Linked DNA regions of Homo sapiens: region 2 is linked to region 1. Evidence: fine-mapped expression QTL. A gene starts in region 1. The other region holds a variant in brackets. All regions are shown on one strand. Distances are from middle to middle. Region 1 holds the start of NIPSNAP3A (nipsnap homolog 3A). Region 2 overlaps NIPSNAP3B (nipsnap homolog 3B).

Region 1 (5,386 bases):
AACAACATTTAATGAATCCACTTATACCACATTGATGAAAATATCACTTAAGAACCATTAATTCCTTTTGTAATAGTCATACACGCACTGTAAATTTCTAATTTGTGTTCTGGTTGAACTTTCTGTAAGAAATACCTCGCCTAAGATTATCCTCTATGTAGGTATCTATGTGTATATATGTATACACATACACACACACATACGCACACACACATATATATATGCACTCATGGTATACACACAGGCATTCGTGATATTCTTATAAATCCATCTTACTTAAGTTTGAATAGCATGTGCCATTTCCTTAAGTTGATTACACCAGAATAATCTGTGAAGACAGTTTTGATACCTACAAAGCTATGGACAAATTAGGGCTTATACTGACTAGCCAGTATGTCTGTCTGAAAGCAGTAGGCTTTTGCTCCGACATATTTTTGTTTACAAAATACAAAATTATGTAACTGTGTATGATAAGGCTTAATGATAATTATCTAGAGTTAATTCTATTCGTGTGTGACTTATATTCTTATTGCTCAAATGACTAAGCCTACCAACAAAAACAGCTGCAGCTGCCCCTGCCTTTTGTGGACACTCTTTTTGTGCTTTTAAACCAAACTCTAGTAACAATGTTGGTCAAGAAGCAAGTGCCTAGTATCCATAATTTCAAAATTATTATAATAAAATATATCAGGAGATAGGCCAATGGGGCATTTGTGACAAATGGATTTCAGGTTGATTCGAGGAATTTGTATTTGGAGGATAAAATAGTTGATCAAAGGTACACATTTTTACAATTTTGGGCAGTATTAATATACAGTAGGGAACCTACAGTGAGAGAGGGAGAGAGATGTGGACAGGTGGTGCCAGAGAAGGAAGACTGCAGGGGAGCCGGGTATGGTGGGGGAGCCGGATGGGAGTTAAGAATTTTGTTGCAGGGATGACTTTTAGCTGCTAGGGCAGAAATCATGAGTCGTCCATCCTCCCTTATCTCCAAGTTAGGGATCATTCCCACCAGCAACGACCTCCACTTCACTTAAAAGAGAACAACTGATGGACATTTCTAAAAACTTAAAGTTTGGAATCATGCCATAAGGACGTCATTCCTGGCCCTGCCCCACTGGAGAATCATTAGGGTAAAAACTGCATTGTTAACCCGGGGTGAATGGACATGAGCTGCTCTTCTTTAGTGCTCCTCAGTCTGTCTCTAGGACAGGTTAATCCCCTTCCCATCCTGCCCCTTCAGAAAGGAGTAAAGTCCTAAACATCAAAAGGAAAAGAAATTTCTAGGTTGAAGCCACAGAATAGGCCACTCCCGAAAGTTAGGGCAGAATCACAAGCTCCATTTTGTCCATTTCTCATCTAAGGTTAAAAGAGTCTGTCTGTCATCGTCCGGTTTGATAGGAGGCTCCGGTCCCGCCTGGTTGGGGGAGCGACCACACGAAGCGCGGGTGGCGGGCAGGGTCCAGCCCCACCGGGACCCTGGGCCTCCTCTTCAAGGGTCTCCGCGAAATGCTCGGAAGTTGTGTGCTTCATTTAAAAGGGGGAGGCCGGTTCCGTGGCAAGCGGCTGGTTGACAATTCCCTCCTTCAACCTGATGTCTAGAGAGGGCGGTGGCTTGGAAAGCTACGACTCCACCCGCGGCTCCACAGCGCCAGGTGACAACATGGGAGCGCTCGCTGGGCCGCAGCCGCGACATAGCTGGGCAGCAAAAACGAAACAGCCGGCGCCATGGGAGTGTCCCGGTGGGTGTGGCATCCAGGCTAGAAAAGCCTTCTGACCACCACTGCCCGCGAGACGACCCCGGCTGGGGGTATTCCCCTAGCAGCGGCCTCCTCCTCACGCGCGTTCCGGGTACCCCTGTCTTGGGGTTCCGGGGCTCACGCTAGAACCTCACCGGGGCCCCAGGTCTGGGCGCGCGTGGCGGAGAGCGCATGCGCATTGCTCGCACGTACCCGGAACACTCCCCGCCCCGCCCCTCCCCTCCCGTCGGGTGAAGGCTTGGGTACCCCCGTGGCCGGTACCTGAGGCGCCAGCGTCCGTGAGGCCAGCGCCCGAGTCAGGGCGCTTCTGAGGACGAGCATGGCGCGGCTTCGGCGCTGAGAAAAGCAGCCAGCCGTGTCCTTTCTGAGACTCCTCTGAAGGTTTCCCGAGTGGAAAGGAGCGGCTCCTGGATCATTGGCAGACGCAGGCTGGGGCGGGGCTCGGCGGGGTCAGCTCCACCCCGGCGCGGGAGGCGCGGCGGGTCCCGTAGCTTGGTGTCTTTCTCTGCTGTGCTGAGCGTTGGTTCCCCCTTGGTTTCCTGAAACGTTCTTACCCCAAACGTTAGAGGTGACGTTAGGATTAACTGAAGGCTCGGATCGTTCCTGCTTCAACTTTCTGGGCCCTCACTCACCTCATTCGCTCCAGTGCTCAGTTGTGTAGATTGGTAAATGTGCAGGGGTTGTGGGTGTGTTGACCATGGGGAAAGAAGGAGAGGTGTTGAGTGCGTGCATGTGCAGTGCTTTGTATTTAAAATCGTGGAGGTTTTTTCCGAGTTAAGTTTTAGATGTTGTGATAGACGTGTATTTGAGCCTGACCTCTCTGCAATGAATGTGTTCTCCATCTTAGAAGGCTCCTAATTAAGATTTAGATTAAATTTTCCACGAGCTCAGAGAAATGGCAGCATCGAGCCTGAAATGAAAAAGTCAAAGTTAAACATACCCTGGTCTAGTCCTCCCAGTCCGGGAGTGTTGGTTCCCAGAGTAACCACCTTCAACATTTCAAGCTGTTTCATTTAATGCTTGTTTCTGTATTTTTAAGTAAGTAGTGTTTTCTGCTGTTTATTGCATTTTCAGTTATGGATAGTATGTGTTGACTTCCTTCTGTGGCAGATGAGGATTTATGTCTCATAGATGCCACTGCCCCCAAATTCACTTGTCTTCCTGCATCTAATAATGCTTATGTTAATTTACAGTAATTAATTACACTATTAATTTACAGTAATCTATATTAATGTTTACATTATTCTTGCTAATAATTACATTATTGTAAACATTAATGTAATATTGCTTACATCATGAGGACTAGGGAGGGATTGCAGGGCCATGACCTGGGTTGTATTGGTTGTGCCTTGTGGAAGAGCTTTGGAATTGTCTGTTCAAAGGAAGGGAGACTTTTTAAAATTAGTTATTTCGGAAGGGTTGCCTCAGTTTTTCTAGAAGAGAGACATCTATTTGTAACCATGCAAGACTAAAAAAATCATTTGTATCAGGACTGGATCTATATGAGTAAATTATTTTCTTAGACCTTTTTTTTTAAACCCTGTAATTGCCAATCCATTTACTTATTCAACAGATATTTACTAAATTCCTTCCATGTTCCAGGCACTTTTCCAGAAACTGGGGTACAGAATTGAGCAAAATTCAAAGTCCCGTCCTCTTGGAACATCCAGGATGGAGGAAACAGATAAAAAAAGGAAGAGTAAATATATCAGGGATTGTCAAATAATATAAAGAAAAATAAAGTAAGATACGAATAAAGGTGCTAGTGGAATTCTAAAAGTGGTCAGGATTCTAGCTATTGACTTGGATATTTAGGATTTAGGTTTCTTCATACCACTCCCTCAAAATACACTTTCCTTCCTGCGTTTATTGATGTTTACATTAAAAATATATTTTGGAGTGAGAAAAACATGTTAAAAGCACTGTAAGCACAGGTGAATCTCTTCAAATAGTGGGCTTCACTGTGAGGTGATCTGACCTGGGTATTTCACTGAAGGCTGTATCCCCTCCCCCCAAACTGTTATCTGCAAGTTATTTATCTGTGTAGTCAGTGTTAGGGAAGGGAAACTTCCAGTATCTTATCTGTGTGAGAAAAGCCTTGCTGCCAGTTTCCTGAGGCTGAGGAGGGAAGAAGGCCAGAACACTCAGCATTTGGTAGTATCTTTCAATAATATATTAATTAGGGTAGATTAAATAGCTCTTGTAAATCAACACTCAAAAAAGTGTATTATTACTCAAACACTATAGGAGTTTATTTTTTATAAGAATACAAAGTGGGTTTTTCTAGTTGGCAGGTAGCTCTTCTATACTTAGTGAATTAGGGAGCCAGGCTTCTACCCGGTGGCTTTGCCATTCCCTAGTCTCATCATTAACTGCATCCATCCAGCAGAAAGATACAGGGAACTTCCAAGAGGAATTTCCAAGAGGAAAATACAGATAGGGGCAAAATTCATGGCTACAATTGAGAGATGGCTAAACATTGTTAAGTGCTTCTAAGTAGCTAAAATATTCTCCTATTCTCTTTCTCACAGGTTTTAAATATCCTCAAATACTGTGAGTTAAGCTTTATCTCCGTTTTTTAAGTGAGAAAGGTGAAGTCTGAAAAGAGAATTTTCTCAGTTTCATTGCTACGAAGTGGCACAGACTTTGAAGCCCAATTGTAAAACCAGTTCAGTTTACCATTTATTTTTAAAAGATATGTGATTATTAAGGTAATTTTAGATTTGCAGTGGAAAGTAGCTTTTAGACAGAATTTAAAATGTAATATTGTTCTGTGGCTATTTTAAAAAGCATATCCCTAAACTGCCTGGAAAATGTATAGGATAAATATTTTGAAAATTATTGTTGCATATCCTGAAATTCTGACAAATAGTCCAAAGGATAGACAGTTCAAAGCTAGAAAAATCCTATCAAAAAACTAGATTATTAAAATAGGCTCGTATGATATAGAGTAACTGGGTAGTTATTTTGGATTGGATAGACAGAGATGACCTATCTAAGAAGGTAATATCAAACATTTATTATAGGTATGAAAGTGTATATGAGATATCTGTACACTTTAAAGAAGAATAATAAAGTGAATGTCTGTGCTCTTGCCACAAGGCTTAAGCAAAAGGGTATTGCCAGCAACTCAGAAGCTCAATACATGTTCATTCCTGGTCACATTCTTCTTACAACCCTCTCCTCCAATTCCCTCAAGTAACCATGATCCCAAATTTTGTGTTATTACATTGATTTTTCTGAAATAATTCAACTACATTTGTATATAACTCTAAAGAGTATATTGCTTTGGTTTGCCTGTTTTAGATTGTTTATTAACTAATTTTATTATTTTGTTACATAACTGTTAGCTATAACTTTAGGCTTTTGCAAATCAACCACATTAATGCAGTTGTAATAATTAATTCACATCCCTTTAGTATGCTATTCTATTACATGAAAATACCTTGTTTTTTTGTCCATCTGACTATTATAAACAAAGCTGTTTGAATTTATTTGTAGATGTCTCCTGGTTCCGCCAGAAGAATTTCTCTAGGGCAGGTATTACTAACCTTTTTTTGTGTCTTAAAATCCTTTCAAAATCTTGTGAGCCTGTGGATCCCAAATGTTTTTAAATGTATAACAAA
Region 2 (5,386 bases), 21 kb before region 1:
CTAAGTAACAAATCTTCACATGTACCCCGTGAACCTAAAATAAAAGTTAAAAAACAAACACCAGTTCAGCATTTGAAAAAGGCTCCATAAAGTATTAACATTCTAAAAAAATAAGATGTAAAATAAGATGCTTATAGATTTTTTCAATCCTATAAACAACAAACTCTAAAAATTTGGAGATAAAAATTAAAACAGGTACCAAAATGAAAAAGAGAGACGAACTGATCTAATACACATGGCAACTTCATAGAACAAATGGACAACTGTACCTCTGTTGAGTTCTCCATATTCTGTGTGGAAAACACCAACTACTTTTGTGTAGCCTAAATTGACATGGGCATTAATTGCTCTTTCAAATGCATCACCCCACAGAGCTGGCCCACCAGGTTTCATCTGAAAAACAGCTAGTTCATAGACTCCTAGAATAGGGAGAAAAATAATTATTTCACAGAAGACATTCAAACAATTTCTAACCAGGTTTTCCTGATTTCATTAGAAGGCTAACCAATGAAGTTAGAGGATAATCCATGTATACATACATATGCAGTCACATTTATTGATTCTCTGCATTATTTTTCTTTGCTTTTATGTTTAGAAAGTCTTTGTCCATGTTTAAGGGTCAGTTGTTAAAATTAATCATAAAGAAAATAAAGAAAAAGGACTGGAAGCTATATATAAACTACACTCTGAAATATTTTTAATCTATAAAATTTGTCAGGAAAACAGATACTGAGAATGTATAATGAAGCAGAATTTTCAAGCTGCCTGTCTACACTTTTTAAAAAAGAAATGCATAAGAGAAGTACTTTCTGATATCCTACATTTCCTTCTCCTTTTCAATTTTGAGAGGAAATAACTTTTTCCTTTGTATAATTTTCTCCGGTAGGATTCTATTTCTAGTTGACCCAAAGTCATGTCTGAGCCTTTAAGGAAAAAAAGAAAACCCTCAAGGAGATGGTTTTATTCTTCCTAAATATCCAGGTAAATGCTTAAAAACCATTCTACCTTCTGGCCAGAAGTATAAGATGGGTGGAGAGAAAGAAACTAGAGGACAAGGTAGATTGGACAAGAAAAAGGAAAGAAATACAAAGTTACTAAAGAATTATGAACAACATAGAGGAAGGGAACTATTAATAAGACTTGACACTGAGAAGTCAACTGTTTTACTTAGTGCTGAAAGTTAAGGGGAGTTTTAAGTACATTAGAATCCAAACAAGACTTTTCAAATCTCTTATAATCTAAAATAAAATACAAAGTTGAGTTTATGGGAGACATAAAATGAAATTTAAATTAGTTTATGCTTTTCGAATCTGACCTCTGTTTAAAATTAGATAGAGGTAATTATTTCCTTTAGTGAGCAAGAAGTGAAATCAGGAAGAAGACAAATCTTTTCAAACTGAGAAACAAGAAAGAGGAAGACACAAAAGTTAAACTACAATAATGTAGCTTAGCAGTGTAAGTTAATTCATTCCCCCAAAACAGTCAGTTTACAAGCAAAGATGTACTTAATGATTTAAGATTAGCTGACTTTGTGGAAAAAATACTTTTATATTTAAAAGTTTATACATTTTAAAACTGTGACAAAATTTCATGAACTACGACTCATCTACCTACACCTGTTTTCCTAGCTCCCAAGCCCCACTTTTTCACCTGTATTGACCATGTCAACTTTTGTTAGGCATCCGTTAGATTTCAATATGGAAAAATACTTCATTTTTTGTTTTAAGGATAAGCAATGTTTAAGGATAAGCTCAATGTTTTAAGGATAAGCAAAGAGCTCTAGAACTCTAATTCTCTTTTTTTTTTTTTTTTTTGAGACGGAGTCTCGCTCTGTCGCCCAGGCTGGAGTGCAGTGGCGAGATCTCGGCTCACTGGAAGCTCCGCCTTCTGGGTTCACGCCATTCCCCTGCCTCAGCCTCCCTAGTAGCTGGGACTACAGGCATGCACCACCACACCCAGCTAATTTTTGTATTTTTGGTAGAGATGGGGCTTCACTACGTTGACCAGGCGGATCTTGAATTCTTGACCTCAAGTGATTCGCCCGCCTCGGCCTTCCAAAGTGCTGAGATTATAGGCGTGAGCCACCGCGCCCAGTCTCTAATTCATTTTTATCTCCAGACTCATCATATATTATTATATAAAACAAAGAATTATATATTTTTTTCCTATAGAACTTTACTCTTTATAACTTTAGGTCTTTAGTATTTTACTCATTAAAACTCATAGTCTAAGAGGGAAGAACTCACCTTCTTTTGGAGGCTTTTCTAATTTGGACCATGGTATCAGGTAAGTAATTTCCGTCTCTTGTTTATCAATGCGAGCCAAATTTGGAATGATAGATTGTTCTTGCCATTCCTTACAGTTGGCTAAGGCTTTCCGAACTTCAGCTCGATGAGCAAAATTATCTATGGGAGGAAAATAGTTAAGAAAATGTTTTTTTATTTAAAATCGCCCATATTTTTACTTGAATTTTACTCAGTTCAGCAAACGTGCAAGGCCATATGGGAACCCCATGTTATTATGTCGCTGGAGATGCCAACATAAATATATGTGACAACTGCTCTCAAGTTACTCATGGTCTAAAAGGGGAGTTGAAATGTAAAAAACTAACTTAATTGACATAGAATGGGCTTTATAGGCTCTAAGACTTTCTTAGGAAGTTGTGTGAATTAGGTTCGTTATTCAATCTTTCTGTGCCTCAGTTTCTTATTCTGTGAAGAAAATAGTATAACATCTACCTCCAGTGTTGTTGTGAGGATTAAATGAATTAGTACATGAAAAGAGCTTAGAATGGTGTTTGGCACCTTAGTTAGTACTCAGTATATGTTAACGATTCTTATCAATGGAAGCATTTGATTTATAGAGAAAGACTATTTTTCCTTGGTGGTGGGTGATTAGGTCAAGGTACACTTTGAATCAAAGTTAACATAAATGAAATTAAGATGCACTTTTTAAGCCTCTTTTTTGAACAACAGCTCCCAATGAAATAGTGCTGATTCTTTTATTTCTTGTCAGTAATTCTTTTTCTCTACAACTTATTTCTCTTCTTTCTAAGTTACCCAAACAGGTATATACATTTACCAAGATATGGGCCTAGTATAGTCAGCCCTCCCTCTCCACAGGTTCTGCATCTGTGGAT[T/G]CAACCAACTGCAGATTAAAAATATTTTTTAAAAATACAAGTGAAATAATATAGTATAACAACTACTTACATAGTATCTATATTGTATTAGGGATTAAAAATAATCTAGAGATGCTTTAAAGTATATGGAAGGATGTGTGTGGGTTTGATGGAAACAGTATGCTGTTTCATATAATGGACTTGAGCTGAATCTGGTATCTACAGGGGTTCCTGGTACCAACCTCCTGCAACCTCCTGCAAATACAGAGGGACAACTATAGTATATTTACTTTTAGGGCCTCCTAAGACTAATAGTAAATGAATTATATGATTTATGCTGAGGATAAGGAATAACACCTATCTTACAAGTGAATTGTAAAGACTTTACGAGCAGTTTAATGGGACACAATTAAACTTGTGGCTCACCTAACGCACATAAGTGGATTATATATGTGGTTTATCTAAAGCATATAAATGAATTATAAACACTTTATTAGCAGTTTTTTCAATGGGACATGTTTCAACTTGTGGTTTATCTAAAGCATAAATTATGTTTTAATAGGGTCTGTTTTATTATAACAGGGAAAAACTAAAGAGTTACGTCAAGCATAGAATGAACACTTTTCATATTAAATTACTTTATGACTATTAACTTTGGACACTGATCACTAAACAGTAAATGAAATTATTAAAAGTTCTTTAGGTATCCTCAAGTCCTGATGTGGACTGTTAAGAACAGACATGGAAGTAACAAACATTCTGGGGATTCTTGTTACTTGTTCTCTTTCCTCTACTAAACCAGGGGTAGGTCAGCTTCAATATGGGAAGGACTGTCTCTCATTCCTTTTCCTTACCTCCCTAGGGTAGTATGAAAGAATTCCTTGAAACTCTGGGGTACAGAAATGAAAAAAGAAGTGGTCTCTAAACATAACAGAATTATTAAATCTCAGAGTTGGGTGACGCTTAAAAGTTAACTATCATCCTTTAAAAACCTCCATTTTTATAAAGCTCCCAAATGGGTGAATTATTTCTGCAAAAATGCTGATATCCAGCCCTAGCTGTAACAATAATAAGAAAAAAAAAATTATCTTATCCTAATGACACTCCTTTACCCAAGAACTGCAATTAGGAGTCTCATAAATTTACAAAGCTTTCTCCCTTATTTAGCCAGTATTCCATCTTCGTCAATACCATATACATTAGTTACACATTTAAAACATTTTTATTAAATATACATGTCTTTTGGCAGGCCCAACGGTGATCTTAACCCACTTGAACATTTACAATTACTGCTTTAAATTTTTCATGAGCTATCTTTATAGCAAACGATTCTAACATTTTTCTGAGGATTAAAGTCTAATTCACAATTTTATGGTTTGATATATGAGACTGCATGTTTTCTCATTTATGATAACATAAGAGTTCAAGCAAGGGGTGGTTAGAGGTGTACCACTGGGAAGAAGATCTGCTAAATTTATTTTTTTGGTATTGCTTTTAAAAAGTCTTACTTAACCTGTATGTATCTATGGTAATATAGATCCAAGAACTAAGTCTTATGTTACATTTAACAGAATGAAAATCTATACTGAATACTAAAACTGGATGACTCTTTACCATACTTCCAAATATGAAACACTTTATTCGTTCTGCCTCCAAATTCTACACTCCAGAATCCAACCAATTCAGAGTAAGAGGTCCGAAGATGAATGTTTTTCTTAAGATTTTCCATGAACGCATTCATATTTGAAGGTTTAAGGTAATAAGTACGAAATTCATAGAACGTTCCATCGTATTGTCTAGGGCCCGTAGCAAAAGATGAACACACCTGAAGGAGGTAAGACAAATGTAAATATCTTGGGAAGGTACAATTACAGATTTGGTTACAACCAAATCTGAGTCTGGTACAAGGAACACACATAGACTCATTATCCATTGTTTACTTTTGTTGTCAATTCTCCATATACACTTGTTTACATAGAGATGTCAATAAAGATAACTACTCTTAATTCTGATGAATATATAGCAACTGTTTCCTAGCAGGGGTCTACCTCTAGCCATTTTTTCACGAGAATTTGCTCACAAGAAGGCTGTGGGATCATAATGATACTCCTTTACCGAAGAACTACATTTAAGACTTAGTCTCTTTAATTTACAAAGGGTTTTCCCCTGTTTAGCCAATATTCCATCTTACTCAATACCATATGTATTAGTTCCACACATTGAAAAAAATTTATTAAGTACACATGCCTTTTGGCAGGCCCAAAAATA

What was found. PIP is the estimated chance that this variant, and not a neighbour inherited with it, causes the effect. A credible set is the group of variants that fine-mapping cannot tell apart.
Region 2: its variant is the best candidate, but not a certain one, in a credible set for the expression of NIPSNAP3A in gastroesophageal junction (GTEx, PIP 0.62).

Annotation. Positions count from the first base shown.
Region 1 is chr9:104,744,488-104,749,873 of GRCh38, reverse strand. NIPSNAP3A (nipsnap homolog 3A) reads right to left here and starts at 2,191. Exons shown (of 6, transcript NM_015469.3): 1 at 2,022-2,191. The coding sequence starts at 2,081. It overlaps LOC107987105 (a long non-coding RNA gene), which reads left to right and starts at 2,235. Exons shown (of 5, transcript XR_007061705.1): 1 at 2,235-2,425. RefSeq lists an enhancer at 1,628-1,787 and a silencer at 2,208-2,297.
Region 2 is chr9:104,765,882-104,771,267 of GRCh38, reverse strand. It overlaps NIPSNAP3B (nipsnap homolog 3B), which reads right to left. Exons shown (of 6, transcript NM_018376.4): 2 at 4,733-4,943; 3 at 2,247-2,405; 4 at 270-419. Among named protein-coding and RNA genes, the nearest start is that of NIPSNAP3B, 4.4 kb to the right of the region's middle. The variant T/G (reference allele first, on the strand shown) is at 3,140.